Regions from separate parts of the Homo sapiens genome. Here regions 2, 3 and 4 are each linked to region 1. Evidence: fine-mapped expression QTL. A gene starts in region 1. Each other region holds a variant in brackets. All regions are shown on one strand. Distances are between the middles of the regions. Region 1 holds the start of CTSC (cathepsin C). Region 2 overlaps CTSC (cathepsin C). Region 3 overlaps LOC101929174 (a long non-coding RNA gene). Region 4 overlaps LOC101929174 (a long non-coding RNA gene).

The links. PIP is the estimated chance that this variant, and not a neighbour inherited with it, causes the effect.
Region 2: its variant is fine-mapped to the expression of CTSC in whole blood (INTERVAL, PIP above 0.99).
Region 3: its variant is fine-mapped to the expression of CTSC in blood mononuclear cells (TOPMed, PIP 0.94).
Region 4: its variant is fine-mapped to the expression of CTSC in whole blood (INTERVAL, PIP 0.95).

What each region holds. Positions count from the first base shown.
Region 1 is chr11:88,333,305-88,341,415 of GRCh38, forward strand. CTSC (cathepsin C) reads right to left here and starts at 4,432. Exons shown (of 7, transcript NM_001814.6): 1 at 4,197-4,432; 2 at 1,633-1,778. The coding sequence starts at 4,368. LOC101929174 (a long non-coding RNA gene) reads left to right here and starts at 4,580. Exons shown (of 5, transcript NR_188511.1): 1 at 4,580-4,752. RefSeq lists an enhancer at 4,148-4,427.
Region 2 is chr11:88,300,174-88,308,284 of GRCh38, forward strand. It overlaps CTSC (cathepsin C), which reads right to left. Exons shown (of 7, transcript NM_001814.6): 5 at 357-472. Among named protein-coding and RNA genes, the nearest start is that of CTSC, 34 kb to the right of the region's middle. RefSeq lists enhancers at 3,231-3,290, 7,308-8,111. The variant T/C (reference allele first, on the strand shown) is at 3,498.
Region 3 is chr11:88,359,361-88,367,471 of GRCh38, forward strand. The region is part of intron 1 of LOC101929174 (a long non-coding RNA gene); the gene reads left to right. Among named protein-coding and RNA genes, the nearest start is that of CTSC, 26 kb to the left of the region's middle. The variant G/T (reference allele first, on the strand shown) is at 4,685.
Region 4 is chr11:88,380,078-88,388,188 of GRCh38, forward strand. The region is part of intron 2 of LOC101929174 (a long non-coding RNA gene); the gene reads left to right. Among named protein-coding and RNA genes, the nearest start is that of CTSC, 46 kb to the left of the region's middle. The variant C/T (reference allele first, on the strand shown) is at 3,558.

The sequences.
Region 1 (8,111 bases):
ATCTCCTAAATAATTTATTTAACCTATTTCCCAACTGAATTCCACTTCATTCATTCATTTTTTTTGTAATAAATTGACTAGGTGTCTATTGTGTGTCAAAGAAGAAGGGATAGAGACAGAGGAAAAGAAAATGACAAAAAATTATGTACAAGGTTTATGGTACATGGTAACAATTGCCTTGAATATCTCTTCCTTTGCACATGCATTCCACATGCAATTGATTCTTAATCTGAAGTCAAAGAACCTTTGAAGGGCTGTGACAGAGTAACTGTAAGAGGTCTGCAAAGGCCTAGGCTCATCAACGTATACACCAAAGATTATTTTCAGGTTAAATATACCACATATACATTACAATTTTAAAAATTTATATAGATACTATTGTAAGTATGTTTTTTACAAAAAAAATGCGTAGCATCTGGAAATGATACTAAAAATAGTTAACAACTGGTTAAGCATGGGTTTCCACTAATTCAGTGGACTGGTGGCCATCAACAGCTAGCATGGACAAACTGGTTTCCACCAGCTGCATATCACACCAGCAAATCCAGTTGAGGAAAGGCAACCTCTTCCTCTCTATTTCATCTTTTTTTTTTCCATATTAAAGAAAGGTCCTTATTTTAAAAATATTTCTGGGAGTTATTATTCTAAAAAATATTGTAAACTTGCTTGGACCGCCATAACCTTGTGACAAACCACAACTCCCATGAGAAATTATAACAAGTTTAGAACTAGGCCTTTGTTGGTGCTTTGTCTTTTATCATATTTAACAGAGTTATTCCCTACTTTCCCACTTCTTCCCAGATGTTTTAAAGGCTGTAAACCTTTCACCATGAAAAAGTCTGTCTTAATTTATACTCTATGTATAATGAGAAACGCCTAGTTTCAGGCTTATGTATCCAATTTACTTGAACCATTTAATATTTAGCTTACAAGAAAAGTTCCAGCTTGTGAAGAACAAATGAAATGGGCTGCAATTTGTGCTAAACTATTTTAACCCTGAGTATGTTTGCAATTGGAAAAAGTGTGTTATGAGAATGAACAATAGTTCTTTCCTAATGAGAGAAGGAAACAAGCTGGGTTGACTTGGCTACCTTTCACTTTAACCAGCCTAAGGGAGTAACTCCTAGGTTCTCTCTTTCTGTTAGTTTAGAAGAAAAAATTACTCAACATATTTAGTACATTTAAGATAATGAATCATTTAGGCCTATCACTACCTCAGCCAACAGGTAGTGATAGGAAGGACAGCATAGTAACTGCAAGAAAACAAAATGTGTAATCTCTCTATCTTTCCTACAGATTTAGAACAAAGCCAAATGACTATGGCAACATTTAGAAATAAAGTGGTAGTAATAAGGAAAATAAATTAAGAATTTAGTCATACTTACCAAAATGTAAATTTTAAACATAATTTATACATATTCAAATGTAGCACTGGTATTTTGTAAACCTACTAAAATCATAATTTTAAATAAAGTGGCAAAATTATACCAACTACTACTACTCTTGGGAAGAGTGGTGTCAATTCCGGTCATCTTCTTAATCTAAAATTAAAATTCTGAGGGTCTACTAATCAGAAGAGGTTTCAGATATCAAATCATTGAAAATGTAAATCCAACTTCCAACAAAACTAACCTTAAAAAAGGCAAACCACTTGTAGTCATTCAACACAATCTCAAAGCCTTGGTTGTAAATGATGGTGAAATGGCCAGAATTGCCAAGGTCATCATATGCTGTATCCAGCTTCTGAAGGTACACCACTACTTTTTTTTCTTGTGGTCCTAAAGAAAAAAAAAAAAAGCACAATAAAGGAAAATTATTTGGATTTCAATAGGGGAAAGAATCCCCCAATTTCAATTTTAATTGTGCTGCTTTCCTTTCATGCTACCCAGTTTGAGCACAGTCTGCCTAGTGAAGAAACCAGAGGCTCCATCTTGTTGCCTCAAACAGTTCCTGCTCCGAGGCAAGACTGTGAAGTTAGGCTCTAAAAATTTGAGATAATGCAAGCAGAAGCAGTGGCTCACGCCTGTAATCCTAGCACTTTGCGGGGCTGAGGTCAGAACTTCAAGACTAGTTTGGGCAACATAGTGAGACCCTGTCTCTACAAAAATAATTTTTAAAAATTCGCTGGTTATGGTGGTGCATTGCCTGTAGTCCCAGCTATTTGAGCGGCTGAAGCTGAGGTGGAAGGATTGCTTGAGCCCAGGAGTTGGAGGCTGCAGTGAGCTATGATTGCACAACTGCATTCCAACCTGGGCAACACAGTGAGACCTTGTCTCAAAAAAGAGAGATATGCTATGCAGCCCAGCAGGCAGGGAGACCCCCAAAACTACAGTACCTTTCCAGAGCATCCCAACACTGAAGAAATTTTTCCACTGAACAAAAGGAGAAATGGGGAATGTTGAAAATTACAGGCTTCCAGAAACGGAGAAAAGGCAAAATGCTAGTCAAAAGTGGGAAATGCAAGAATAAAAGGTATGACAACAAAAAGATAAATAAACAGACTATCAGATCCTAAGGAAGACAATGTGCTAAGCCCAGGAGAAGACACAAAATGATCTATTCGGAGAAGAAATGGGGTACCTTTCTCCTCAAAGGCTCTACAGTTTAGAACCTCATAATCTGAATCCTTCCAAAGTTTATTCAGCAAACTAGAGGTCTGTATCCTATAAAACCAATTAGTGCTGATAGGAATGATACGTTTAACCTTCATAGATGAGGGCTCAGACCTGTGGGTGCCTTTAATTACTGAATTAAGGCCAAAGGTAATTTTATAGGCAGAGCCTTCCTGAAAATGATTCAGCTGTGTCCATCTGGAGAGTTGTGTATTTTAAAGTTTTTCCATGTTTGAGAGTAATGCTCTGACATGGGAGATTGCATGTGACAGGGCAGTGCAAATCCTGATCTCTTTCTGCCCCAACCTTCAAACTCAAATTTAAAAAAAAAAAAAAAAAAAAGGCCAGGCGTGGTGACTCCCGCCTGTAATCCCAGTACTTTGGGAGGCCGAGGCGGGCGGATCACGAGGTCAGGAGATGGAGACCATCCTGGCTAACACAGTGAAACCCGTCTCTACTAAAAATACAAAATATTAGCCGGGCGTGGTGGCATGTGCCCGTAATCCTAGCTACTCGGGAGACTGAGGCAGGAGAATCGCTTAAACCCGGGAGGCGGAGGTTGCAGTGAGCCGAGATCCCGCCACTGAACTACAGCCTGGGTGACAGAGCAAGACTCCATTCTCAAAAAAAAAAAAAAAAAAGTTACAATGTTCAGGATTATGAAATGCTATACAGTCAGTTAAAAAGGTATTTCTTTAGTAACAAATGACTTAATCTTTGTTCTGTTGACAAGAAAATTATAGCTGATTTTTTACTGACTCTGCAGAAGTCACAGGCTGTAAGAGGGTTTGGGTAGACCACAGTGTGACTCTTCTAACTAGTGATTGTCTTTTTTCCACCCCACCCCCTTCACTAGGTTCTTTGTTCTAGGGGTAACCATGTTATCTGAAGGCATATGGAATATCTCCAGTATGTTCAAACACTAGGTATTTATTGAGAGCCTTCCATGAGCCAAACATTGTGCAGACTCTGGGCATTTCTAATTACTAGGTTCAGAGTTAAGTTTTCTTTGTTATTAATTTTTTAAAAAATTTTTACCTCCTTGCAATGCATGAAACAATGCAGAGTGGTACTAGCCGTTTTCTAGTACTCATCAACACCCGCTCAAACCAAAATCGCTGGGCAGAAAGTCCCTTTCCCACCATCTAACAAAAAGAGAAAACTTCATGCTATATCCTCGAGAGTCTCTGAGCTCATCTATCTTCACTAGTAAAATAGTAATAAAAAATAAAAATAAATTTTAAAAATAACGCTACCAGATCGGACTGGAGAACCAAACGATTGCAGTTCCCAAGTCTCTCTCAAAGCAAACAAAATTAAGCGGGAGGAATAAAAAAGTTCTTGATCAAAGTGTTGAGTCCCCAAGATAACCAAGAAAGTGTGGAGTTAGAAGTTCTCAGCAGATGAACTTTAACTTCGCGAGCCTGGCGGGGAAGAAGGTCCCCAAGGGTCCCCGAATCCAGTCAAGATGCTCTGGCCACCCACAAGCGTCTGCCTGGGGGGAAGCGGTAGTTGGCGTGGCGCTGCGTTAGGGGCTCAAGGGCAGAAAGGACGACCCGGAGGACTGCCGAGCCGGCGGCTTACCCATAACCGAGCAGTTGACATCGCGCTGGGAACCGCTGGAGCCCACCTGGAAGACCCAGGTGCCCAGCAGGTCAAGATAGGTGCAGTTGGCAGGTGTGTCGCAGCGCACGGCGCCGTCGCCGGAGAGAAGCAGCAGGAGGGCGGCGAGCAGCAAGGAGGGCCCAGCACCCATGCTGCAGGGAGCTGAGAAAAGAGGTGAAGAATTACCAGGAAGCCGAGCGCTGCGGGCTAGCGGTGAGTCCACCACGAGGCGCGCGCCTTGAAATAGCTACGCCGGCCCGGAAACCCGTGGGCGGGGTCACTGAGCAGCAGGGGATTGGGGGTTGGGCGCCAGGCGCGTGCGCGTCTCTGAAACGGGGACTTGGGAGCGCGCGCTGCCCCTCACTTGGCTGCAACTGGACCCAGAACTAGGGAAGAGGCCAGGGACAGATTTTTTTTTTTTATTTTTATTTTTTTTGCCGAGGGACGTTTCAAAATTTTGCACGGCCAGGGTGACAAAAAGAGGATTTAAGAGCCACAAGCGGTCCGCACATGACCCAGACTTCGTTCCTGTGCGGTAACGTAGGGAGAGAAGGAAAGGGTGTGGGGGGAATAAGGGAGTGGGTCAGGTGAAAGAGCGCGACAGAGGGAGAGATCTAGCAAGTGGAGTTCTGTTTTACTTGCTATTCTTCCCCTTTAGTCTTTTTTCTCAGGTCCACTTGCCTCATAACCAACTTCTTGTTTTTTCCTCTGAAAAACTTCGCTAGCTAACATCAACTATTCCAGCTGTTTGAGAACTTATCTTCCTTCCGTTTTCCAACTCTTCCTACTTTTTTATGTGCTTGATTTTGTTTTGTTTCCTGGTAAATGCTGTTTGCCTGTTTGCATTCAGCAGAATTCAGTTTTTGTGCAAACCTGCAGTTTTGATGTATTAGCGTTGTGGGGGTTTTCCCTCTGGCACGCACACACATGGCGCTCTCAGAGATGATATTGCTCAACCCCTTTTATGTTACAGAGGAAAAGCAAGAGGCCCAGAGAGAGGAAGCGGCTTGCCCAGGGTGAGAAGGGTGAGGAAGGAAGCTAGCCAATGGGAGAAGGCTGGTCTTATGAACCGTTCTAGTGTGTCAGTCTGATCGCCAAAAATTATTAGGTGGCACTATTTCCAGGTGCCTCCTTGCTCAGTTTAAGTATCACCCTTTTCCGTAAGAGCCTCCCGTTCTTTCCTGGCTTTTGTTGGTAATTGGGGCTCCTTTCTCCCACTGAGCCTACTAGGTGTCAGGCCCTGTGGACACAGTGATGAACAAGACAGACCTGATGTGTCCCCGTTTTCTTTGGGATATGAATTTTTGCCCCCTTTGCACTGGTCACAAATCAATATTCATATGTCCATTTTTTTTCCACCAGATTATAAACATTCAAAGAGAGCAGGTCCAAATTATTCACTTATATCTCCCTAGATTCTGGTTTATTCAGAAAGTGTCCTTGAGTGTTAAAATAAGTGTACTTAATATTCTTATCTTGGTTGCCAAGCTTGAAAGCCAGTTTCAATGAGGCAAAAGGAGTTGTCCTTGAAAGTTCAGAGGTGAAAATACTCTTCAATGGGGGCACAAATTTCCAAAGCCTGGGGCGGGGTTGGTGGCGGGGGGTTGGGGAACACCTTGCTTTTAGGTTTTATATACCTTCTTAGAATTGAAAGCTGACATTGTATAATTAAGCTAACACACTATTTATTTAAAGATACCCTGACAGATTAAGCTTCCCTTCCTGAATCTCTAGGAAGGTGTGTTACTGATTGTTAAAACATTAAATTTGTATTAGGTCATCAATATTGAAGAGCCAGTTTAGGTGGAAATTTCTTTGATGAATGTAATCAAAGCAACACACTTAATTGTAAAGAAAGTTTAAAACAGTCTTTATTCAATGATTGAATAATAGAAAAAGATCTTGTGGACCTCTTAGTCTAATGGATTCATTTTAAAATTGGGAAATGGAGATTCAGAGAGTTAAATCACTTGCTGAATGTCATATTGCCACTTAGTAAGATTTAAGAATGAACCTCAGGCACATTGATTTTCAGTTTAGTTTATTTCTACTAATCTAATAATTCCCATACTGTTCTCTCTCAAAAATAACTACTAACTCTCCATTCCACGCACACACAAAAAATTGATTCTCAAACTGATCAGACCCCAAATCCTTTACTTTCTGAAATGAAATTAATATATAAACTGCTTACACACTTAATAAAAAGAAATGTAATGCCAAATGTAATATAAAGAAGAAATCAGATATTTTAAATATATTTCTAGTATAATAAGTTATATCCCATCATGTAAAATGTTCAAGTATGACTGTGTTGGAAAACATAATGAGGCACTCAGATACTTGCTCTTCACACTTCTGTAACCACCCAATGGATTCACCTGGCCTGCTGCCTAGACAGAGCCAATTTATCAAGACAGGGGAATTGCAATGGAGGAAGAGTAATTCATACAGAGCCGGCTGTGGGGGAGACGGGAGTTTTATTATCACTCAAATCAGTCTCCCCGAGCATTCAGGGATCAGAGTTTTCAAAGATAATTTGGTGGGTAGGGGCTTGGGAAGTGGGGAGTGCTGATTGGTTAGGTTGGAGATGGAATCATAGGGGGTCTAAGTGAGTTTTTCTTGCTATCTTCTGTTCCTGGGTGGGATGGCAGATATGGTTGAGCCAGATTGCTGGTCTCAGTGGTGTCAGCTGATCTATGGAGTGCAGGGTCTGTAAAATATCTCAAGCACTGATCTTAGATTTTACAATAGAGATGTTATCCCCAGAAGCAACTTGGAGGGTGGGAGGGTGCAGACTCTTGGAGCCAGAGGCCACATGACCCCTAAACTGTAATTTCTAATCTTGTAGCTAATTTGTTAGTCCTGCGAAGGCAGACTGGTCCCCAGGCAAGAAGGGAGTCTTTTTGGGAAAGGGCTATTATCAATTTTGTTTCAGAGTCAAACCATGAACTGAATTACTTCCCAAAGTTTGTTCCACCTATGCCCAGGAATGAAAAAGGACAGCTTAAAGATTAGAAGCAAGATGGAGTCGATTAGGTCTGATTTCTTTCACAGTTGTAATTTTTGCAAAGGTGGTTTCACTTCTATGTAAAATTGTAGAATCGTGGTAAATGTGATAGGAACTTTTTTCTGAGAGCACAAATGATTTCTGATGAGTTATAACTCAAATACCTTATCAATTAATCACTCAAACACCATACCAAAGTTGTTGATGTTGGACAATTCTTGGTCAAATTCCCAGGAGAACAAAGTAGAATTTTCTGTTGAAGGTTTATCAAGAGGTTGCATTCCCAAAAATTCAGTATATGTTAAAATTATATAAAACAAAAGTGAGCTTATGTGCAAAACATGGTCTGTCAGTAGGCTCCCATCATTAAAAGCAGGTTTACAGAGAGGCAGCATTACTTGGCAGTGGTTCTCAAAGTGTAGCCTAGGACCAGGGACATCAGCATCTGTCTTAGTCTGTTTTCTGTTGCTAGAACTGTACCTGAGACTCGGTAATTTAAAACAAAGAAAATTATTTTTTATAGTTCTAGAGACAGGTAAGTCCAAGGTCAAGAGGCCCCATCGAAGGGGGCCCTTCTTGCTGGTTGAGACTCTTTGCAGAATCCCAAGGTAGTACAGGGTATCACGTGGCAAAGGGGGTCATGAGAGATGGCCAAACTAGTGCTTATTACAGACCCACCCTCATGATAACTAATCCTTGATAATTCCATAATCCATTAATCTATTAACCCATGATAGATTCATCCATTCATGAGGGCACTGCCAATCACTTCTCAAAGGTCCCACCTCTCGACACATGACTTTTGGGGGACAACCTATGTTCAAACCACAGCATTCTGTCCCTGACCCCCAGAATTCATGGCCTTCTCACAATTCAAAATACAG
Region 2 (8,111 bases), 33 kb before region 1:
ATTCCAACAAACCACTTGCAGAATGGTACACAATTCTTTGCTTCTACTAGAATCTTTCCTACTAGGAGGACAAATGAGTTTGTCTTACATATCACTCTGATTGTCACTAGCTACCTGGAAAATATATTGAGAAGAGTACTGAATAAATGCTAAGCTCAGTAGAAAAGAAAATTTTTTACTAAAGTTTGTCATGGATATAAAAGGAAAGAATAATTCATAGGCCACCTATTTTCTATTTCTGTAAAAAGGGGATCATGCCCATTCCATCTAGGTATCCCCGAAATCCATCACACAGAGCAACTGTTCAATAAATAGTTCCAAACAAATTAACAAAAAACTTAGGCTTATTTTTTTACCTTGGTTTCGAACAGGACTGACAAAATTGATACCATGAACATTTCTCCAGTCCCAAGATGTTGGCAAATGCAAAATCTTTTGCTGTATTTCAGCAGTCAGTGGTGCAGGTTTGGGCCTAGAAAGGAAATATACATTTGATATCAACATATAATCTTTCCTTTGAGGATGATTTCCTAAACTCTACTATAATTCTATGATTTCAGCTACCAGACTAGCTAGGATCTAGATTCAGACCCAGAGCACCTGTTTTATGAGTGATTCAATGTGTCAATTACACAATGGAGTTGTGTAAATGGCTTTCATTCGCTGTTTCTTTTTCAGGATCTAGTATTGATAATTTTCCTTTGTGAAATGACACTGGTTTTGTATATCACTGTGATGTTATTTTTAGTTTGCCTGAATAGCTGCATTCTTACTCATTTTTGAAAGATTTTTGACCAAGAAAGAGATGAGAAGTAGAAGACATAAGAAGGGTTTAGAGAAAACAGAGGAATCACTGATGTTTGACTTAGGAGACAGACACATTGGTAGTGAGGTGGCTGTAAAAGAAGTGAAGTTGGCAAAGGGAAAAAAGGGTCTATGTGAGGCAGGAGAACAGGTTCTGGAGGCAGGGAACATAAGGCCAATTCACACTGACTTCCTAGAACTAAATAAAGTGGAAACACTTCAGCAATGGCAGGAATGCGAAGGGCTTTGTCACTTCACTTCATCCTCTCCGTTTACATGGGCCACAACCCCCAGGAGTAACACCCTCTCCATTAACACAAGGCCTATACTGAGTAAATGACTTTGTAACTTAACTCCACCCTCTTCATTTACATAAGGCATACACCAGGTAACCAATGGGAAACCTCTAGACGGTATTGAAACCCCAGAAAATTCTGTAACCAGGGCCTTGAATCATTTACTTAGGCCCACTCCCATCCTGTGGAGTGTGCTTTCATTTTCAATAAATCTCCGCTTTTGTTGCTTCATTCTTTCCTTGCCTCATTTGTGAGTTTTGTCCAATTCTTTGTTCAAGAAGCCAAGAACCTGGACACCCTCAACCAGTAACAAGCATAACACAGGCTGACTAGCTCCGTAAACAACAGATAAAACTGTTTCATTATAGAACCACACCTTATATGACAGTGTTGGGCTGTAAGACACACAAAGGAGAGTTGCCTAGGCCCATGAATGAACGGACATTTTTGGGAAGTGAGAAAATTGTTCTAACAGCTTCTCTGTATTAGCGATTTCACACATACATACACATGCACACACACACAAACACACGCGCGCACACACACACACACACACACACACAGAGAGAGAACCACAGCTTTAGACACATTCGACTTCTTGGAGTTTCCCCAAGACTGCCAAATGGCCTCTCTGTTCTATATCTTTATGCTGCTGCTCCTGTAACCTCAAGTGCCTGTTGCTCACCACTTAAAACTCCCCTAAGAGTTTTTCCCTAACTTGTAATTTTCAAAACTGCTCATAAAGTAGCCTCCACTCACCAGCCCCCAGCGAAAACTCACTTCCTCTCTCTCTCTGCTCCTTCAAATTTGTTTTTAGGGCACTAGTCACAATGTGGTAAAAATTATTTTTTGTTACTATAAACTATTTGAATTTCTTATTCAACTGGGCATTGTCATATCACACTGTTCTAGTTTTTCAGTGGTTACCAGATGTTTTTTACTAGGCTAAAATTTAGTCAATGGCAAAGATTCTTTCTGGGCTACTTCATGCCCTCTGCACCTATCCACAAATGGTCCCGTCTCTCACAGCTTCTCTTAGATATAACACAGGTTAAGAATACATGACAAGGGGCCAGGCGCGGTGGCTCACGCCTGTAATCCCAGCATTGGGAGGCCGAGGCGGGCGGATCACGAGGTCAGGAGATTGAGACCATCCTGGCTAACACAGTGAAACCCCGTCCCTACTAAAAATACAAAAAAAAATTAGCTGGGCGTGGTGGCGGGTGCCTGTAGTCCCAGCTACTCGGGAGGCTGAGGCAGGAGAATGGCATGAACCCAGGAGGTGGAGCTTGCAGTGAGCCGAGATTGCACCACTGCACTCCAGCCCGGGTGACAGAGCAAGACTCCGCCTCAAAAAAAAAAAAAAAAAAAAAAAAAAGAATACATGACAAAATGGAACTGAGATGAAACAAAGAGAAAAACAACAACGATTTCTTCAAAAATAGCAATTGTAACCTTGACAATTGTATAGATTACACAAACACTAGTTAATTGTTCACTAATTTTTTCTCCTAAGCCAGTCACATTGGTTGAAGATATACATGATACAGAGATAAATATGAGATGGTCATTAACAATATGGAAGACAATGTTAAGAGACATAATATACACAAAGATTACTATAACAAGTTACAGTAATGCTATAAAACACACAATTTGGACAAAGTCTATATAATCAAGGATCATAAAAATCTGTGCCTCATAGGTAATTTTATATATAGGGTGAGAGAAAAAACAAAGCTTGGACATTTCTTCTAAGATGTATAAATAAAAACTAAGATGCAAACAAACCATTTCCATCTTTGAATGGAAATAGTTTCTGTGGTTTCACATTGAGAGAGTATGTTGAAGAAGAAACTCAATTTTTTTTTAATTCTCTCACTGAACACTATCAACTGTCAACACAAAAGACTTCTGTGATCAAATGCATGTGGGTTTTTCCCCACAAATCAAGCAAGCAACCAATTTCACAGTGAATACTAGCTGGGTGTCCTCCAATCCAGTTTTGACACTGTGTACTTAGAGATGGCATCAGATCTCACAGGCTGAGGGCTCCGTCCCACAAAACTGCCCCCTACTTCTCATGCCAATTGAAAGCCCTAGGTTGTTTACCTGTGCTTCTGGCCAACCAGCTATAATGTGGGGATCCTATGACACCCTCCTTGGGTTCAATTAATTTGCTAGAGTGACTCACAGAACTCAGAGAAATACTAACTAATGTTTAGTGGTTTATTATAAAAGATACTACAAATGAAACAGATGAAGAAATGAGTAGGGCAAGGTATGGGGGAAGGGGCACACAGCTTCCATGCCCTCCCTGAACACGCCACCCTCCAGGAACTTCCACTTGTTCAGCTATCTGGAAGCTCTCTGCACCCTGTCCTTGTGAGCCTTATA[T/C]GGGGACTTCATCAAATAGGCACAACTGACAACCATGTAGAGATGTGACTGGACATAAAGGGAATGATGTAAACACAGCAAGGCCTGTCCAGATTCTTCTGAGCCTCTCTCTGTTCAGTGTTCCTTCCTTTAGGGTATGACACAGGACATCTTTGGAAATGAAGGTCTTATGACCCAAGATCAGAAAGGCAGGAGAAGATTAGAGTGCTGCCCTGGGCAGGTGAGAGGAGGGCGGAAGAAGATCAGAGAGAGAGAGAGAGAGAGACTCTGTTTTCTGAGGCCTACTTCTGAGGCCTAATGTGCCCCAACGTTAAAAGATAGTGACAAGGGCTATGGGAGTTATGAGCCAGGAACTGTGGACAAAATCTAGTATGTGTTAACTAGTTGTCTTGTTTAAACCTAAGAATATACTAATATAAAGGATAAAAAAGAAATTTAAGTTTGGCAGCATAATGTAATTTCAGGGCATATGATTTTATCACTTACTATCTGTGTAACATTTGGCAAGGAACCTAACATTACAAAACTACAGTTCACTTCTATTAAAGTGGGTATAATCATGCTTACCTCAAAGGGTTGTTATGAAAATTCAATGTAATAATGGGTAACAAGTGCTTAGAACAGTGTTTTTCTCTGATAAGTCCTTAATAAAATGGCAGCTGTTATGAAGATAACATTCATATCATTAACAGGACTAAATAAGATGCTGATACAGTTTAAAGCAATTATCTGGCACAAAACAGTCATTACAATATTAAGTTCCTTTTTTCTACCATCCTATAAGGCAGAGATTTGCCCATCATTGCACACACAAACAAAACAAAAACAGTGTGAGAACTGAGGCTTAATGATGTTGTCAAAGGTGTTTGACCCAGAGCAACTCCATCTTGAATAGGAGCTGGGTAAGATGAGGCTGAGACCTACTGGGCTGCATTCCCAGACAGTTAAGGCATTCTAAGTCATAGAATGAGATAGGAGGTCAGCACAAGATTCAGGTCATAAAGACCTTGCTGATAGAACAGACAGGCTGCAGTAAAGAAGCCAGCTAAAACCCACCAAAACCAAGATGGCGATGAGAGTGACCTCTGGTCTTCCTCACTGCTACACTCCCACCAGCACCATGACAGTTTAAGAATGCCATGACAGGCCAGGTTTGGTGGCTCACATCTGTAATTGCAGCACTTTGGGAGGCCAAGGTAGGCAGATCACCTGAAGTCAGGAGTTCAAGACCAGCCTGGCCAACATGGCAAAACCCTGTTTCAACTAAAAATACAAAAATTGGCTGGGCATGGTGGGTCATGCCTGTAATCCCAGCTACTTGGGAGGCTGAGGCAGGAGAATCATTTAAACCCAGGAGGCAGAGGTTGCAGTGAGCCAAGATTGCTTTACCGCACTCCAGCCTGGACAACACAGTGAGACTCTGTCAAAAAAAAAAAAGAATGCCATGACAATGTCAGGAAGTTACCCTCTATGGTCTAAAAAGGGGAGGCATGAATAATCCATCCCTTGTTTAGCATACAATCAAGAAATAACCATAAAAATGGACAACCAGCTGCCCTCAGGGCTGCTCTGTCTATGGAGTAGCCATTCTTTTATTCCTTTACTTTCTTAATAAACTTGCTTTCACTTTGCATTGAGGACTCGCCCTAAATTCTTTCTTGCACAAGATCCAAGAGCCCTCTCTTGGGGTCTGGATCAGGACCCCTTTCCAGTAACACTGTGAAAATGAAGAGAGAGCAAGAGGAGTCTGGGGGATAAAAAGGTGAGAATTACAAACATTTTGAGTACAAGATACAGGATTGGCTCTTAATCTTTTGGCCCACATTCTTTACAAATCTAGTGAAAGCTCTAGATTCAGAAATGCTCATAAACAATAAATGCTGTCTGTAATTTCAGCAGTTTCAAAGACTCCCTATATCTCAAGTTAAGAATCTTTGAGAGTTTCTATTACGTCATTGGATTCTTAGAACAGAACTAATTTATAAACAAAAATGCTAGTGAAAAATCAGGAAGCCAGATTATAATATCTGCTTTCATATTTCCTACTTCACTCAATTCCATCTCCTTATCTTAAACCTTCTATAAAGCTTTAGTCATGAAAACAGTCCTTCATAAACCCAGCCCTTGTCTAAAACAAAAGTGGTTGGCTGGAGGGAGAAGGGAGCTTTAGCAGGAGTCCTCAGAAACATAGCATATGACACTTGGTAAAGCAGCTGTGACTGAGGCTCCCATCTTTCAGGCAGGAGCCACAGTCTCCCTAGGCTCAAGTGCTAACACTCCTCCTCTTGATGCTTGTTTGGATTTTTGTTGTTGAATAGATCTCAGCTTCCTGTCTCATGCAGATACATTAAGACACATTAGGACTTCACTTTGGTGAATTTGAGAAGGGGATATGATATGCTCCGTTTTCCAATTTTGATTAACTAGAGCATTTCACAGACAAGAAATTCTCTAGAATAAACTTGGAGAAATACTGCAAAAGATTCTTTTAAGAAAGGGGTAGAATTATGGGAGGATGCCATCAGTTGGACAGGAAAAACCTTCACATAGTCTCACAGTTGAAAAATGCCACACCTTAGCATTATTAGTCTGCAGATGAAAAAGTTAGTAATGTTGATATGGACAGGAGACAGGGAAATACTGGGTAGAAGAGGGTGGTCCCTCAGCAAAGGCCCCACCCTCAAGCCTGAAGACCTAAGGCCCTAAGAGAAGACAGGCATTTCTGTTTTCACACCAAAAAAGGTGCCTTTTGGCCCGCCATGCCCCCCATCCTTCCCCCATATAAACCCAAAATCTTAGCAGGCACAGATACAAGGAGCTGAACATCCAGAGGAGCAGAGGAACAGAGCGGCACAGAGCTGTGGAGAGTGGTGGGACAGCACAGCAGAAAAGGAGGGAAGAGGTATTTGAACCCAGAGGAGAACAGGAACAAGTGGACTCCAGGGGAAGAACACCTTTCCCCTCCATCCTCCTTCTCTGGCTGAGAGTCGTCTCGCGGAGAGCCACCTCCACCACTCAATAAAACCTTGTGCTCATCCTTCCAGCCCACGTGTGATCCAATTCTTCTGGTACACTGAGCAAGAACTTAGGCTGTCACATTGGACCCCTGCCCTTGCAATAAGGCATGGGGTCTAATGACCTGATTAACACAAGCCATCTGCAGACGGCTAAGCTGAAAGAGCACACTGTAACACATGCCCACTTGGGCTTCAGGAGTCTCCAACATCCACTCCTAGACACTGCTGTGGGGCCAGAGCCCAAAAGCACCCCCCATGGCCTCTGCACCTGCCCCTCTGCATGCTCCCCCTAGGGGTTTGGGTGGTAGGGCAAGGGCAACCAAAGGTGTGAGAAGCCACACCTCTGTCATATGCCTGCGAGGGAGATAAGGGAACTCTCACATTTCAAAGTGTTTTAGTTGAGTAATTATTAATCTATTAGTAGTTTATTCAAATAATACAAATTTGAGCCATGAACTCTACAGATATTAGAGGATTAAACATTGTATTCTCTGAGAATTTGAGGCTATTTCAATGTATTAAGGAAAAATAACCTACCTATATAATTTTTCAAATTCTGCTAGCTCCCCATTGCTTTCCAATTCCTTACCCCTTAGTCACATGATCCTAAAGCAAAGTATGGCATTACAGGACTTATCCGTGGCCATTTAACAAATGTTAAGGAACTATATTAGATAGATGTAGATCCTAAGCTAGATCCAGCTATACTTTCAGAAAAATAATTTTTTTTTAAATTATCTAAATTTCTGACTAGACAGATTCAAAGTATTATGATATAATTTCCCAAACTAAGAAATATACCATGGGGCTTATGGGTAAAGATGAAAAATGCCACCTCTGGTTGAGAGTAATAGAGCTATACTGATAACTTTTTTTTTTTTTTTTTTTTTTTTGCTGGACATCAAAGCATAGAGAGGATTTTGAGATTTTTTTTTAGGTGGCAAATTTTACAGTTACTGTAGGCAAGTTGAGGGCTATTTGAGGCAAAGGGAACAGCACAAATGAAGATGAAAAATGAAAGTTTTCATTCATTGTGTGTCATATCGTTTGAAAGCAGAGCAAGGTGATAAATATAGTTATGGTCATAATTAGATGGGTTTGGATACCAGGCTAAATGTATCCATTAGGTAGTGGGCAGTAACACAGTCTCGTAATCACCCAACGGGTTCTCCTTCCTCACGGCCTACACAGAACTGATTATCAAGACAGGGAAATTGCAATAGAAAATGAGTTTAATTCACGCAGAGCCGGCTGTATGGGAAACTGGAGTTTTATTATTACTCAAATCAGTCTCCCAGAACTTGGTATAAGAGGATGAAACTAGAAGCATTTCATAAAACAGCTAAGAATGGGAACTGGGAGAGGTAGCGACGAAAGAGATGGCAGGCATGAAACCGCCTTTGCAAAAATTATACCAGTGAGAAAACTATGAGAGTGAAAGAGAGCTAAGCTAACCCATCCCCCATCTTGCCTTCCACTTAAATATTCCTGGGCTATTGGGCCAAGCTAACTTTGGAAGTCATTTCGGCTACAGTTTAAATGACAATGGGCCTTGCCCTGAAACCCAACCACTTTTGTGAAGCTAATGGAGGCAGTC
Region 3 (8,111 bases), 26 kb after region 1:
ATTTTTAATTTTATAAACATAAAAGGAAAGATTCTTATCCACCCAGACATGAAAAATCTAGCATTATCCTGAGCCTCTGCTTTCTCTTTGCAAATTACCCCTGTAGCAACTCAAGAAGCATTTATAGTAAGCAAATATCTGTTACTTTAGGAAAGCTTCGGAGTCAAGAAGCTAAGCCACCTTGCACAGCTCACAAAGCTGCAAGGCATGATCTTTCACTTGTTGATGAGTAGAGTAATTTTTAACATCCTTGTTTTGAAATAAGAGTAACTACTGCCTAGATGGATCCCATAGCACATAGAAGTGTAATGTGGGATGTGAGAGGAGGTGAGTGGCTACAGAAGGTGAGGAGTGGAAGGTGCACGCAAGCTTCAAGGGATTAGTAAACTAACACTGAAAAGAGGAAGTGGTTTCTGTAGCTACTGATAAAACCCTCATATGCCCTGTTGGAATACATATGCCACCTAAACTCAATGTTAATTTTCATTTCTTTTTCTCCTTTGCTTCATCTTTTCTTGTACAAATGAAGGGTGTGAAAGGGAGGAACAGAATGTTTTCACAGGGGGAAGTATTTTAAAACTTTTGAGTCATGCTTTCTTTTTCCTAAAAGTAGAGAATTTGACTATGTTTATTCTTTTAGTTTTGATATCCTGATATCACAGTTTTACATTTAAAAATGTATTTTAAATGGGTAGCCATAAAACATTTAAAAACATTTGACATTTTTAGAAATAGACAGAAATGGGCTTATTCAAACATGGAAAGCACAAAGCATCTATTGCTTTTTTTTTTTTCTAACAAGTGAACATAGCTAAATAGAGTAATACTGCTATCAGAAGTATATACTCATTGAATGCAAATTCAGTATCTCTCGAATGGGGTGAGGAGATCAAAGGAGGTTTTACTGAAAAAAAACTTAACCAAATAAGAAAAAAACAATGTAGGAATGGTTTTCAGTTATTAACTTTGCTAAATAATTAGTAACAAAAAATTACCCAGTAAAAGAATAATTTAATGTTTTACCATTATGTTTGTTAAACAATAACCCAAAAGCATGTTCACCAGTCCTGTATCTTCTTTCTCACCCCATTCTGACAAGTTTCTCAAAATGCATCAGTCTGTATATTCATCCCTATTTACCTTCACCCCTATTCATCCACCTGCCCCTATCCTTCAACCTCTACTGAAGACCAGGAGGAGAATTGTTTTTCTCCTCACCATTAAGCGGTACTGAGCACATCTGTTTTATCCTGCTGTAACCTCATTAACTAGCAATTACCTGTTGAGTGGATCAACTAATTTTGTTTTATAAGGTGAAGTGTCTCAAGCACAGGCAGAACCCGCCCTCCCCAGTGGAAAATTGAGAGCCCTAATGTTCAGCTCTGGTTTTTGGCTAAGATACCTGTTTTCATGAACAGAAGGCCTTCTCTGCATTTGAGCAAGGAAGAAGGGCAAAGCCAGCTCGAGCAATAATTGTCAACTTTGAATTCTCACTCTTTCTGCTCCTAGTCAGGGTTTTTCTACTCTCCCTAGCGGTAAATGATTTGCTTCTCCCAGGGAAAAAAAAAAAATTAAATTTAACGTGGGTCTTTAGTGATTGCATTTCAGACTTCCTTTTGAACAAGTACGTATTCTTTACTAATAAAGAAAAAACCCGGCCGGGCGCGGTGGCTCACGCCTGTAATCCTAGCACTTTGGGAGGCGGAGGCGGACGGATCACGAGGTCAGGAGATCGAGACCATCCTGGCTAACACGGTGAAACCCCGTCTCTACTAAAAATACAAAAAATTAGCCAGGCGTGGTGGCGGGCGCCTGTAGTCCCAGCCACTCGGGAGGCTGAGGCAGGAGAATGGTGTGAACCCGGGAGGCGGAGCTTGCAGTGAGCCGAGATCGCGGCACTGCACTCCAGCCTGGGGGACAGAGGGAGACTCCCTCTCGAAAAAAAAAGAAAAGAAAAAAACCCAATAGAAAAATGAACCAGAGATACAAATTAGTCGTTTAAATGAAATAAAATAATTCTGATCAATACTTCAAGATGCATATTAAAATATATATTAATTTTACCTATAAGATTGATAAAAATGTAATAGATTAACCATATCCAGTTTAAATGAAGACGTGTGAAAACAGGCACTTTGCTGTACTATTGATGGGTACAATAATAGAAATAGCATTTCCTGAAGAGGAATTTGTCAATGTTGATCAAAATTTTAAGTTCATGTGATGCTTTGACTCTACAATTCCATGGATAAAAGGTTAATTACAGTTCGGGCGCAGTGGCTCACGCCTGTAATCCCAGCACTTTGGGAGGCCGAGGCGGGTGTATCACCTGAGATCAGGAGTTCAAGACCAGCCTGGCCAACATGGTGAAACCCCGTCTCTACTAAAAATACAAAAATTAGTCAGGCATGGTGACGCATGACTGTAATCCCAGCTACTCGGGAGGCTGAGGCAGGAGAATAGCTTGAACCTAGGAGGCGGAGGTTGCAGTGAGCCGAGATCCTGCCATTATACTGCAGCCTGGACCACAAGAGCGGAACTCTATTAAAAAAAAAATAGTAAAGTAATTATAGCATTCTTATAATCATAAATAGTGAGTAATATGCAAGTGGTTAAGAAAATTAAGGAAAACACATACTATTGGCCGGACACGGTGGCTCACGCCTGTAATCCCAGCACTTTGGGAGGCTGAGGCGGGTGGATCACCTGAGGTTGGGAGTTCAAGACCAGTCTGGCCAGCATGGCAAAAACCCATCTCTACTAAGAATACAAAAATTAGCCAGGTGTGGTGGCGCAGACCTGTAATCCCAGCTACTCAGGAGGCTGAGGCAGGAGAATAGCTTGAACCCAGGAGGCGGAGGTTGCAGTGAGCCGAGATCCTGCCATTATACTCCAGTCTGGGCCAGAAGAGCGGAACTCTATTAAAAAAAAAAAAGGAAAGTAATTATAGCATTCTTATAATCATAAATAGTGAGTAATATGCAAGTGGTTAAGAAAATTAAGGAAAACACATACTATTGGCCAGACATGGTGGCTCACGCCTGTAATCCCAGCACTTTAGGAGGCTGAGGCAGGTGGATCGCCTGAGGTTGGGAGTTCAAGACCAGTCTGGCCAGCATGGCAAAAACCCATCTCTACTAAGAATACAAAAATTAGCCAGGCGTGGTGGCGCACACCTGTAATCCCAGCTACTTGGGAAGCTGAGGCAGGAGAATCGCTTGAACCCAGGAGGCAGAGGTTGCAGTGAGCCAAGATCGCGCCATTGCACTACAGCCTGGGCAACAGAGCAAGACTCCATCTCAAAAAACAAAAACAAAAGCAAAAACAAAAACAAAAACACATACTATGGAATATTTATGGAGTTGTCAAGAAAAGAATAAGAGCTTTAAATACAAACATAGAAGGATGGCCAAAATACATGATGTGCAACAAAAGTTACCTGGTAAGAGAATGTGTGTAATTTTATGTTTGTATATGTATTTTTAAAAAGTCTTAGATAACCAGAAAACTCTTAACAATGGTTGCTTTGAGGTGGGGTAGGAGGGAAGGTACCATGTTTGTAACTCTGTGTTCCAAATGTAACTTTCTCTGATATTCTAGGAGGCTACAATTTTTATTGCCTGCTTTTCATATTGTAAATTCAGCACAGAAAAATTTTAAAGCAAAATTTAAACTCTGTTTAAGAGAACTGTTTTGTTTTTCTATGTTCCTTTTCCCCCACTTCATATATTATTTGACTAATACATCTGTGCCATGCATCCTACTGGACAACTGCAATGCTGCAATGCATAGGCAAGCACACTCTTATACACACACACGTCCCTGGTCTCACAGAGCAAACACCCTCCCCAACCCCAGCCACACTCCCACACTAATGCCTCTGCTCTTACAGAGTTAACAGACTTTATCTGTGTACATATATTTGTTTACATTGCTGTTACATAGAACTTATGCCTACTATTATTTTGTGTAACATAGTATTTTATTATCTGAATTTAGTAATGATTACACTGAATATGCCATCAAAGAGAAGTCTCAAAATATATATAATTATTCCCCTATAGTTGGGCATTTGGGGTATGTACACCTTTCCCCTTTAATGGATCTGTAATCTAGTGAGTTGTTAGTGTCTACACATAAATCGTTGAGGATGCTAAGAAGAAAATTAGGGATGGGATCCCAGAGATGTTTCCTACAAATCCTCTTACCACACAGACAGACCCTAGTGAAGAAACAGCTATGTTAATACCTTCTGCTTCTTGTGTACCTCCTATAAGCCAAACACTTTGCATTTGCATCTCTTTTAATTGTCACAGTAACAGTACAGTACTAGTATCCTTATTTTACCAGTGAGAAAAGAGAATTCAGAAAGATTTTGTAAGGAGGAAATGACTCACCATCACTTCAAAAAGTCTCCTCTTATTAGTGCCTCCTTCAACTCAGGAACTTGATTAATGCTTACATAATCATCACATTTAATCTTCCTACAACTCCAGTCAGATACCTATCCTTATCTCAAATTTATATCTGAGGGAATTCAAAGAAAATAAAATATTAGGTTCATATCAGAGACTCTTCCTATGAGACACTCTTAGCAAGGGTATTGGGCAACATGAAGTGGTGATGCCATCTCACTGTGAGACTCCCACCCCACCCGCAATACAGGGTTGAGGCCTCTGTTGCA[G/T]GTTTTTCTTGATTTTCGTTACTGGATAGCCTCAGTCCTTCTTAGGTGAGATCATGCTGTTCTTCTTCCTTCATATATACCTAAGACTACTTTTTCCATTTTGGTTGAAACCAGAGAGATTATAAAAACACAGAATCACAGGCTGCTGAGGCACTTGATGTGAGGAGCACAAAGACAAAGAGGTGGCAAGGTGAGTTTAATGCAGAGGCTGAAAATACATTTATCTTTGACATTGTGTAGTGATAAGATCACCCCTGAAGAGAAGCTTCTGTTCCTTACACAAACACAATCCACCAAAGAGAGTTCAAAACTGCTTCCCTGCAATGTCTGGAATTTTGGCGTTCAACCTATACACATTCATTTATTAAAGAACAGTCTTGTCACTCATTTCAGTTGTGCCTAAAGATAGAGACAGATCCTCAGGCTATTTCACTTCCCCAGAGATAGGAGAGGTTGTGGGCATAAAATTTTAAGTTAAAAGATTTGAGTTAGAATCATGGATCTGCTTGTGATTAGGCTTTGGCAACTTATTACAGCTCTGAACCAGTTTTGTCAAAGCGAACATTAGGTTTTTCAAAAAAAAAAATCATTGTGAAGATTAAATACAGTTATTTAGCATAGGTGGCTATCATCATTCATCATCATCATCATCATCATCATTATTTTACAAGTCAAAAAAACTGTATATCTTCCATCTTGGGTTATGTGGTCCATTCTTTCTAATCCCCATATTTGGAATTACTCTCAGACATTAACTCATTTCTCATTTCCCCCGATTTCCTTGGGGTGTGCCCCAGTTCTCAGGGTCTATTTCTAGCCTTCAGACCCCATTACTTTCCAAGCTGCCAAGTGACATCCTGGGTGACAATGCTTCTGTTGTGCACCATCAGGGCCAATCTGAGCAAACCTCCCTTTCGTGGTACATTGACTTTGGCCAGTACCAAGAAAAGCTTTGGCCAGTACCAAGAAAGCTTCTAAGATTCCAAAAAAAGCTTTTCTGACTCCTGTAACCTAAACCTTTAACCTTCCAACTCTGCGTTTTCAAGCTTTCTCCCAACTTCATTGTCATTCATTTATTTTTGCGCAAAGAGTGATTTGCATGAAAATTTTGGGGGAATTATAACGTGCTATAGAAACATTGAAATTGCTATTATTTCTGTCTTCCAGCCAGCTGCTAGTAAATTCTTAGCATTAAATTATAATCATCAAAACTAAAAGCATGAAAAACCTCATTTACATTTTGATTTATTCTACATTTTTACATCTACAGCATACAGAGGTACCCTTTTTTATGTTTTGGGGGAGAGGGCTTTACAATCTCATCTTTATTGTAAAGCACTTTTTCAAACATGGTAGGACCTAATGCAGTCTGTCTCTCAATTCAGTAAAGCCTTCCTACATAAGGAAAACCAGGAATAAAGTTGGGCTTATTTAAGATGAATTAGATGTATTTAATTCTTTATCAAGAAAAGCAGTTTTATTGGTTTCAATTAATAATCTCAAATTTATTAATCAAGTGTTGACAATCTACAATATTTGGAAAATTGTTTTGATAAAAAGATACATAATTTATAATTTATTATGAGGCATTTCTTTGCAAGCAATTGCTTATTATATGTTCAAACCCTTTTTATGGGTCAAATAATGTCACAGTAATGTTATTTAAATTGTGTTTTGCTCTGCTACCTCATAGATACATTGAGTCAGTTGATAAATATTTGTCTTGCATATTAATAATAAATGTCAAGCAATCCTATGAAACATGAAGAAAGAATATGAACAGCCACTTAACATGAGAAGTAATAGAAATAATCAATAAACACTTTAAGAATGCTTACAGTTTGAATAAGAAGGAAAATTAAAATGAGGCCTTGATAAATGTATCATATTGCTGCTGCAGTGTTGGATCCTGTAGTCCCCGTTATTTGAGAGGCTGAGGTGGGAGGATCACTTGAGCTCAGGAGTTTGAAGCCAGCCTAAGCAACACAGCAAGACTCTGTCTCTAAAAAAAAAAAAAAAAAAAGAAAAAAAAGAAAAAAATTATATTGCCCAAAATGTAAAAGATTCATAAAGATTCATGACACCCAATGTTAACCATAATTTGAGGTAGCACTGTTCAATAGAACTTTCTGTGATGATGGAACTTTCTGTATCTGTGTTGTTAATTATGGTGACCAAAAACTACATGTAGCTAGCTATTGGTCAGTTAAAATATTGCCAGCTAAGTGTGGTGGCTCACAACTGTAATCCTAGCATTTTGGGAGGCCCAGGTGGGAGGACTGCTTAAGGTCAGGAGTGTGAGACCAGCCTGGGCAACACAGTGACCTTATCTCTAAAAAAAAGAAAAAGAAAAAAAATTAGCTAGGTGTGGCAGCAGGCACCTGTAGCTCCAGCTACTCTGAAAGCTGAGGTGGGAGGATCTCTTGAGCCTAGGAGTTTGAGGCTGCAGTGAGCCATGATCACGCCACATCACTACAGAGTCTGGGTGACAGGGCAAGATCCTATATGGAAATAAATAAATAAATATTGCCAATGTTACTAAAAATTGAATTTTTAATTTTTTAAAATTTAAATTTAAATAGCTACATATGGCTAGTGGCTTCTGTGTTGAACAGCACTGGTTTGAGAAAATAGGCAGTTCAATAAACCTTTTATAGTGGTATAAACTTATATACCCCTTTTAGAAAATAATTTGAAAAAATGTATTGAAAAAGCGTGCGTATTTTGACTTAGCAGTACTGACATTGGCAACCTGTAGTACAATAATACTTGAAAGTGTTCAAGAACTCAAATAATAATGTCAGCATAATTTGTGAGAATTAATAATTCGAAACCAATTAAATACCTTAAATAATCATTAATAAAAAAGAAGTTAAATAAATTGTCATATCTTCATACTATGCCATTTTGTACAGATATTTTTAAAAGTATATGTTAGATCTTCCAATACTGACTTGAAAAGCTATCCATGACAGTCTGAGTGAAAAAATAATTATATAGTCAAAGTATACATAGTATGGTAAATCAATTTTCCAAAGGGAAAAATAAAAAGTTTGTGCATGTGTATTTGTCTATTCATAAAGACAAACCCACCAAAGGGTGGGTTTATATACTGAAGTGTTGCTTGTATATTCTGAAAGCATATTTTCTTCTTGAAATTAAAAAATCTATATAAATATGTTAATTTCTTATTTTACACTCACTAGACCTTAGCCAGGATTCAAATTATGCAAAACTTGTATTCTATCTTTTAAGATTTTACAATTTTATAGAAAAATAGACAAAATATTTCATAAACAATTGTGAACATTAGAATGTTGACTACACCAACATAAGAAAGGGAGAGGATACATGACTCTACATTTAATCTCAATTTGGAATGGTGTTGCTAAGGGTAGTTGCAATGTTTGTGCGGAAGTGTGGGTGA
Region 4 (8,111 bases), 47 kb after region 1:
TATAGTATGTATCTTTATCATGATTAATCTTTAAATGTTGTTTTTGTACTTCACATATAATGAAAGAAATTTACAGCAGAATATTTTCATATAGTTTCTCTAATACTTTGTGGTACTGTTATAAATGTTTATTATAATCTTCAGAACAGCTGCTAAGAAACTTAAAGTTATAGCTAATGAACTAATAATGGAGATAATATGAATATCATACTACCTTATATGTAGAAAATCATAAAGACCACCAAAAACTGTTAAAGCCGATAAATGAATTCAGTAAAGTTGCAGAATACAGAATTAACCTAAAAAACTCAGTAACATTTTTAGGCAGTAACAATGAACTATCCACAAAGAAAATTAGGAAAACTATCTCATTTATGATAGCATCAAAAAGACTAAAACAATTAGGAATAAACTTAACCAAGGAAGTGAAAGACTTACACACAGAAAACAACAAAGTATTAATGAAAGAGATTAAAGGCACAAACAAATGGGAACATATCCCATGTTTATGGATTGGAAGACTTAATATTGTTAAAATGCCCATTCTACCCAAAGCAATCTGTAGATTTCATGCTATTGCCATCAAAATCCCAATGGCATTTGTTAGAGAAATAGAGAAAACAATTTTAAAATTCATATGGAACCACAAAAGACCCAGAATAGCCAAAGCACCCTGGAGTAGAAAGAATAAAGCTAGAGTTATCATACTTCCTGATTTCAAAATATATTACACAACTACAGTAATTAAAACTCTATGGTACTGACATACAGACAGTTATATAAGACCAATTGAACAGAATATAGAGCCAAGAATTAAACCGACACGTATGTGGTTAACAGATATTTGAAAGAGTACCAATAATACACAATGGAGAAAAAATAGTCTTCTTAACAAATTGTGTTGGGAAAACTGGGTGTCAACAAGCAAAATAATGAAATAGGCTTTCTATCTTACACTGTACACAGAAATAAACTAAAAATGGAGTAAAGACTTAAATGTAAGATCTGAAACTGTGTAACTCCTGAAAGAAAACACAGGGAGAAATCTCCATGACATTGGTCCTGACAATGATTCCTGGCTATGACACCAAAAGCACAAGAAATAAAAGCAAAAATAGACAAGTGAGACTATATGAAACAAAAGGTTGTCTGCACAAGAAAGGAAACAATCAACAGAGTAAAGAGGTGACCTACAGAATGAGAGAAAATATTTGCAAGCCATGTATAAGGAGTTAGTATATAAAATATACAAGGAACTACTATAACTCAATAGCAAAAAAGTATGACTTAATTAAAATATGGTCAAAAACCTGAATAGATACTTTTTCTGATAGAGGCATACAAATAAAAGGTCAGCAGTTATCTGAATAGATGCTCAGCATCACTGACAACCAAGGAAATACAAATCAAACTGAAGTGAGATATCACCTCATACCACCAAACAAACAAAAGTTGAATTTTGGTGAGAAGGTATAATACTTGGAACCTTTTTACACTGTTGGTGAGAAAGTAAAATAATGCAGCTGCTATGGGACACAGTAGGGAGGTTCTTCAAAAAATTGAAAATAAAACTATCACATAATTTAGCAATCCTACTTCTGGGAATATACTCTAAAGAATTGAAATAAGGATCTCTAAGGGATATTTGTACTCCTGTATTTATTACATCACTCACAATGGCTAAATTATGGAAGCAACTGAAATACCTATTGAAAGATGAATGGATAGAAAACAATTGTGATTTTTTTTGCATACAGTAGAATATTATTAAGCCTTAAAAAAAAAGGAAATTCTGCCATTTGCCACAACATGGATGACCTTGAAGGACATTATGCTAAGTGAAATAAGCTAGTCACAGAAAGATAAATACTACATGATTTCACTTATATGAGGTATCTAAAATAGTCAAACTCAAAAACAGGTAGTAGAATAGTGGTTACCAAGGAGCAGGGGGACAGGGAGTTGTGGACTTGTTGTTCAATTGATATAAGGCTTTTGTTATGCAAGATGAATTAGTTCTAGAGATCTGCACTATAGAATAATAGTTATAGTTAACAATACTATATTATGCACTGAAAAATTGTTGAGGGCAAATTTTATGTTAAGTGTTTTTATCACAAAAAGGAAACCCACAACCAAACAATAAAACAATGGGACATAGGAAACTTTTGGAAATGGTGGATATGTGCATTACATTGATTGTGATGATGGTTTCATGAGCATATGCTATGTCAAAACTCATAAACTGTATACATTAAATATATACATTTTATTGTATATCAGTTATACCTCAATAATGCTATCTAAAATAAACTAACAAAAGAAGAACAAATTAAACCCAAAGTAAGAAATGGAAACAAATAATAAAGACAAGAAAATAAATGAATAAAATTAAATTGGAAAACCAATAGAAAAAACTAGTGAAACCAACAACTGCTTCTTGTCAAAATTCAATACATTTGGTAAATCTCTAACAGCAGGAGTTAGCACATTTTACTAATATCAGAAATGAAAGGACAGGAGGAAGCATAAATATATATTGTTCTAAATTTAACAGAATATAAGAAAATATTTTGAACAGCTTTATGTCAAAAACTTCACCACATAGATTAAGTGAACAAATTCTTTAAAAGAACGAAGTAACAAATTTCACCAGGAATAAATAAATAACCCATATATCCTTGTATCTACTTTACTTAGTTTATTTTTATCTTAAAGGTATGTTGAATTTTGTCAATTGTTATTTCTGCATTTAATGAAATAATCTTATGGCTTTTCTTATTCAGTCCAGTAATAGTATAGAAATTTACTGGTTGATTGATTTCAAATAGTAAACAAAACTTGAATTTTTTTTTTTTTTCTTTTTTGAGTTGGAGTCTCACTCTGTCATTCTGGCTTGAGTGCAGTATTGCCATCTGGGCTCACTGCAACCTCTGCTTCCTGGTTCTCCTGCCTTAGCCTCCTGAGTAGCTGGGATTACAGGGATGCACCACCATGCCTGGCTAATTTTTGTATTTTTAGTAGAGATAGGGTTTCACCATGTTGGCCAGGCTGATCTCCAACTCGTGACCTCAGGTGATCCACTGGCCTCAGCCTCCCAAAGTGCTGGGATTACAGGTGTGAGCCACTACGCCAGGCCCCAAACCTTGAATTCTATAGTAATCCCTTATTTGTTCATGATATATTTTCCTTTCTTAAAATACATTTCTGATTTGACTTGCTCATTTTTTTAAATTATTAATATTAATCTTTTTTTAAGAGTATCTTGTTTTGCTGCTAGAACAATGCTGGCCTCAAAAAATAAATGAGATGTGTTATCTGATATACTAATTTCAGAGTTTCAGGATAAATATGAAGAAAAACTCTAGCTCTTCACGGTCAAATGATTAAGAAAACAAAGGTAAAGGGAAAATCTTGAAGTCAATCAAAGAGAAAAGAAACAATTTCTACCAGGAAGCAGATATGAAATAGCAGACTTGGCTTCTGAAACGAGGCCAGACAGAAGACAATAAAGTTGCTTATTTGACATATGGAAAGCAAACACAGAAACAGCAACT[C/T]ACCACCTACAATGATGCCCTGTGAAAACATCTTGCAAATAAGAAAGCAATGTGCTTCTCAGACGACAAAAACTGAGATAAATTATTGCCAGCCAATTTGCATGAAAAGAGATGTTACAGCAAGATCTGGCAAACTGAGCATGATATCAGATGAACTTCTGAAGGAAAACACACAGACACACTCATGTACATGCATAGACACACTCATGCACATGCATAGACACACAAAGGCATTTGGACACAGTAATAATGTGGGTAAATATAACAGACTTTAGTTTTTTATATGTCTTTAAAATATAATTGCCTTTAAAATATAATTTACAATGTGGGTGTATAGAACAGATTTAATATTTGTAAATATCTTTAATATATAATTGAAATCTCTTTAAAATAAATTTGTCCTGCTGCTTAGGTTTCTCTGAAGCTTCAGGAACTCTGGTTTATTATCTTTCATTATATTTGAAAAAGTCTTGGCCTTTATCTCTTCAAATATTTCTTCTGCTTCATTCTTTCTTCTCCTCCTGAGATTCCAAGTATGTGTATATTAAATGATTTTGTCTGGTTTCGCAACTCTTCCATGCTTCTGTTTGCCTTTTAGCTCTTTTTTTCCTCTTTGTGTTTTAATTATCTTCAAGTTATTGCTGCTTTCCATTTCTCTGACTATTCTGCTGAAAAGCCTGTTGAAGTAATTCTTCATTTCTGATATTGTGTTTTTATTTTCAGCATTTCCATTTGATTCTTTTTAAACTTTCCTCCTTCCTTCTGAATATCTCCCATCTTTTCATGCATGGATTCACCTTTTCCACTACCCGATTCCTTCAGCGTATTAGTCATTGTTATTTTAAGCTCCCTGTCTGACTGTCAACCTCTGAGGTGTCTCCATGTCTGCTTCTCTTCATTTCTTTTCTTTCTTGAGCATATGTCCTTTTACTTGCTTTATGTGTTCCATAATGTTTAGATAAATGTCAGACATTGTTAGTAAAAGGAAGAAATTGAAACTAGATGAATAAAACTGAGACGAGGTGACTAAAATTTATGCCTGGAAGTTTTCAGTTTTTTCTTCTATCAGGCAATTTGAAGGGAAGGGTTGAGTAAATCTAGTCTGTTGCTGAGCTGGTTTTGGGCTTTTCGGTTGCTAGGTTCCTTCTGTGTACCACAGACTTCAAATTCCTTTAGTGCAAACCACCACTATCTTGTGCTTAATGCATGGCCCAGAGTGCTAGAGGCTTTCTCCTAGAATTCCTGTTCCACCGTTGGCTTTCTGTAGGCCTGCACTCCTAAACCACATTGGTGGTTTCTCTCTGTGCCCTTGCCCTTCCCTTAGTGATAGGCTGGTGATGTTTGTTACTGAGAGTAAGGCGGGAGCAGAATTTTCTTGGCTCTCCTGCTGCAGCCTCAAACTTACATAGTCCCTGTCCTAGTCCCTGTCCACAGAAGCCTCAGCATTCCTTTCTATTCCCAAGTGGCAGCCAATCCCCACCTTATACTCATGCAGGGCCTAGAGTACAAAATGGGCTTCTCCAAGTGCTCCTCCTCCACCCACACACCTAGCCAGGCGCAGCATCCCATGTCACTAATGCAGCTCTTTCAGGTCTCTGTCCCCGTCCCCACCTTTCTCATGAACACGTGATGGATGCACATGGAAAACAACTAGTGAGGCCAGGTGCAGTGGCTCATGCCTGTAATTCCAGCACTTTGGGAGGCTGAGGCAGGTGGATCACCTGAGGTCAGAAGTTCCAGACCAGCCTGACCAACATGGAGAAAGTCGGTCTCTACTGAAAATACAAAATTAGCCTGGCATGGTGGCACATGCCTCTAATCCCAGCTGCTTGGGAGGCTGAGGTGGAAGAATTGCTTGAACCGAGGAGGTGGAGGTTACAGTGGGCCCAGATTGTGCCATTGCACTCCAGTCTGGGCAACAAGAGCAAAATTCTGTCTCAAAAAACAAAAAACAAAAAACAAAAACAAAAACAAAAAAAACAAACTAGTGAGGGCTACTCTGGGCACACTGCCTGTGGGGTATCCCTGCTCTGCAAGGGGCAGTGAAACAAACAAACCAGTGAGAAAGAATGGGCTTCCCATGTATCTAGGACTCCCAGGGTATTAAATTCACACTGATCTACATCTAGCTTTTAGAAATTCATTAAAATATCAGTTGTATTCTTCTAACTGCTTTTATGATGATCATCTCTTCCTTCTGTGTGCTCCCAAATGTAACATATTTCATGTGTCCCATCTCTCATCAGGAACCCATCACTCCTTAGGATTCCATTTCCTTGATTGCTTTGTGATCTCAGTTCTCTGATTGGCTCAAATACAATTACAATTTGTAGACTTTTTTCTACTTTTTCTCATTGCTTGGGTGAAAGTGATGTGATTTTTCAGGCTTCTATATCCTAACTGGCTTATCTTGAAATTTTCTTGAAGAATATAGATCATTTAATTGTAGATATCTCTCAATTTGGGTGTTTCATATGTTTGTGTGTATCAGCATGGTATATGGCATCTATTAATCACATTACTTGTGACGTTAACTTTGATTCCTTGATTGCTACATTTCCGAACTGAAAATTACATTTTTTCCACTTTTTACATAATGTTGCTATGGGGAAATACTTTGTATATTTGTAAATATCCTATATTCTCTCAAATTTTATCCACTAGCTTTAGCAAGTATTGACACATTTTGCCTGGATCAATTATTATGCTGGTTGACAACTTGTAATTTTGTAATTTTATATTTCCTTATCCATTTCGTTATCCACTGGGAGGACAAACTTTCCATTTTTTAAATTTATATATTTACATATTTTATTTATATCAGTGTGAACTTAAGAATTCTTTATTCATGGGCTATAATCCTTTGCTATCATTATTTTAATGTTCTTTTTTTTTTTTTTTTTTTTTTTAATTAAGACGGAGTTTCGTTCTTGTTGCCCAGGTTGGAGTGCAACGGTGCGATCTCGGCTCACCGCAACCTCCGCCTTCCCGGTTGAAGCGATTCTCCTGCCTCAGCCTCCCAAGTAGCTGGGATTACAGGTGCCCACCATGACGCATGTTGGTCAGGCTGGTCTTGCACTTGACCTCAGGTGGTCCACCCGCCTCAGCCTCCCAAAGTGCTGGAATTACAAGCGTGAGCCACTGGGCCTGGCAGTGTTCTAGTTTTTCTAGGTTTGCCCAAGGGAACTGCTTAGAGCTGGCCCCTGTGTCCTTTGACAAGCCCTATCATTATTTAGACTCTTCGTACTTTCTGTTACTAAAAGATGTTCTAGATTCATCTTGTAGTTTCTCTGCTCCAGCCCATGAGCCAGTCATTTCTCCAATGAGTGCTCATTTCATTTCATGGAGAATGGTATTTAGAAGTCAAGATATGGGCAGTCATTTTTATTTTTAAAATAATACCCATAAACTAGGAAAAGACATGAAACAAATTGATAATAAGGAATTAACCTACAACTTGCCTGGAACATAAGAGATCCTCAATATAAGTTTATTGAATGAGTGAACAGTATTTAAAAAGTAGATTTTAGTAGGTAGTCTGCATTTGACAATTTTATCCAATCCCGCAGTTTTTCTCCTCTCCCCAAATCTCTTGCAAGAATAATTTTAATTCCCCTAAGTTTCAGATTTAAGTCTGTCACTCAGTTATTTAAATATGCTCTTATATTATCATTTGCACAAAATCTAAGCTTCTTGACTTAACGTTACAGCTCAGACCCTAATTCATATGTAAATATCTACGCTTCCATTAACTGTGTGTTCCAATGAGAATTTGCTAACAACAAAAGACGTCTTACTCTATCCCTATATCTTTCTTATATTGTTCCATTGGTTGAAAATATATCTACCTTACAGAACAAATGTTACTCATCCATGAAGCTTTCTCTGATTTCCTCTAGCTTGGAATGATTTACACATTTTCAAACTCATAAAATGATGGTCTATTAGTTTATTTATATTGGCTCATCTCTCACACTTCTCATATAAGAAGCATACTAGATTTGTATTACCTTTGCAAATAACATTTGGATAGATTGACCACTTACCACTTTGCCAGTACAGATGCATTATAATACTATTAGAACCAGCTTGTCATCACTTTGAGAAAAAAGTTCATTATTTTAAAATGATGAAAGTATGCACCTGGCCAGGTGCAGTGGCTCCTGCCTAATAATCTCAGCACTTTGGGAGGCCAAGGCGGATGGATCATGAGGTCAGGAGTTCAAGACCAGCCTGGCCAAGATGGGGAAACCCTGTCTCTACCAAAAATACAAAAATTAGCCGGGCGTGGTGTGGCGGGCACCTGTAATGCCAGCTACTCAGGAGGCTGAGGCAGAGAATTGCTTGAACCTGGGAGGCAGATTGGGTGACAGTGAGAGACTCCATCTCAAAAAAAAAAAAAAAGAGAGAAAGTATGCACTTCATTATCAGTTTTAACATCTAGAAAACATATTAAACATAACAGAAAGATGCACTTCATTATCAAAGAGTTTCAACATCTAGGAAACATATTAAACATGACAAAGATATGATCATATATTGCTTAATTCTATG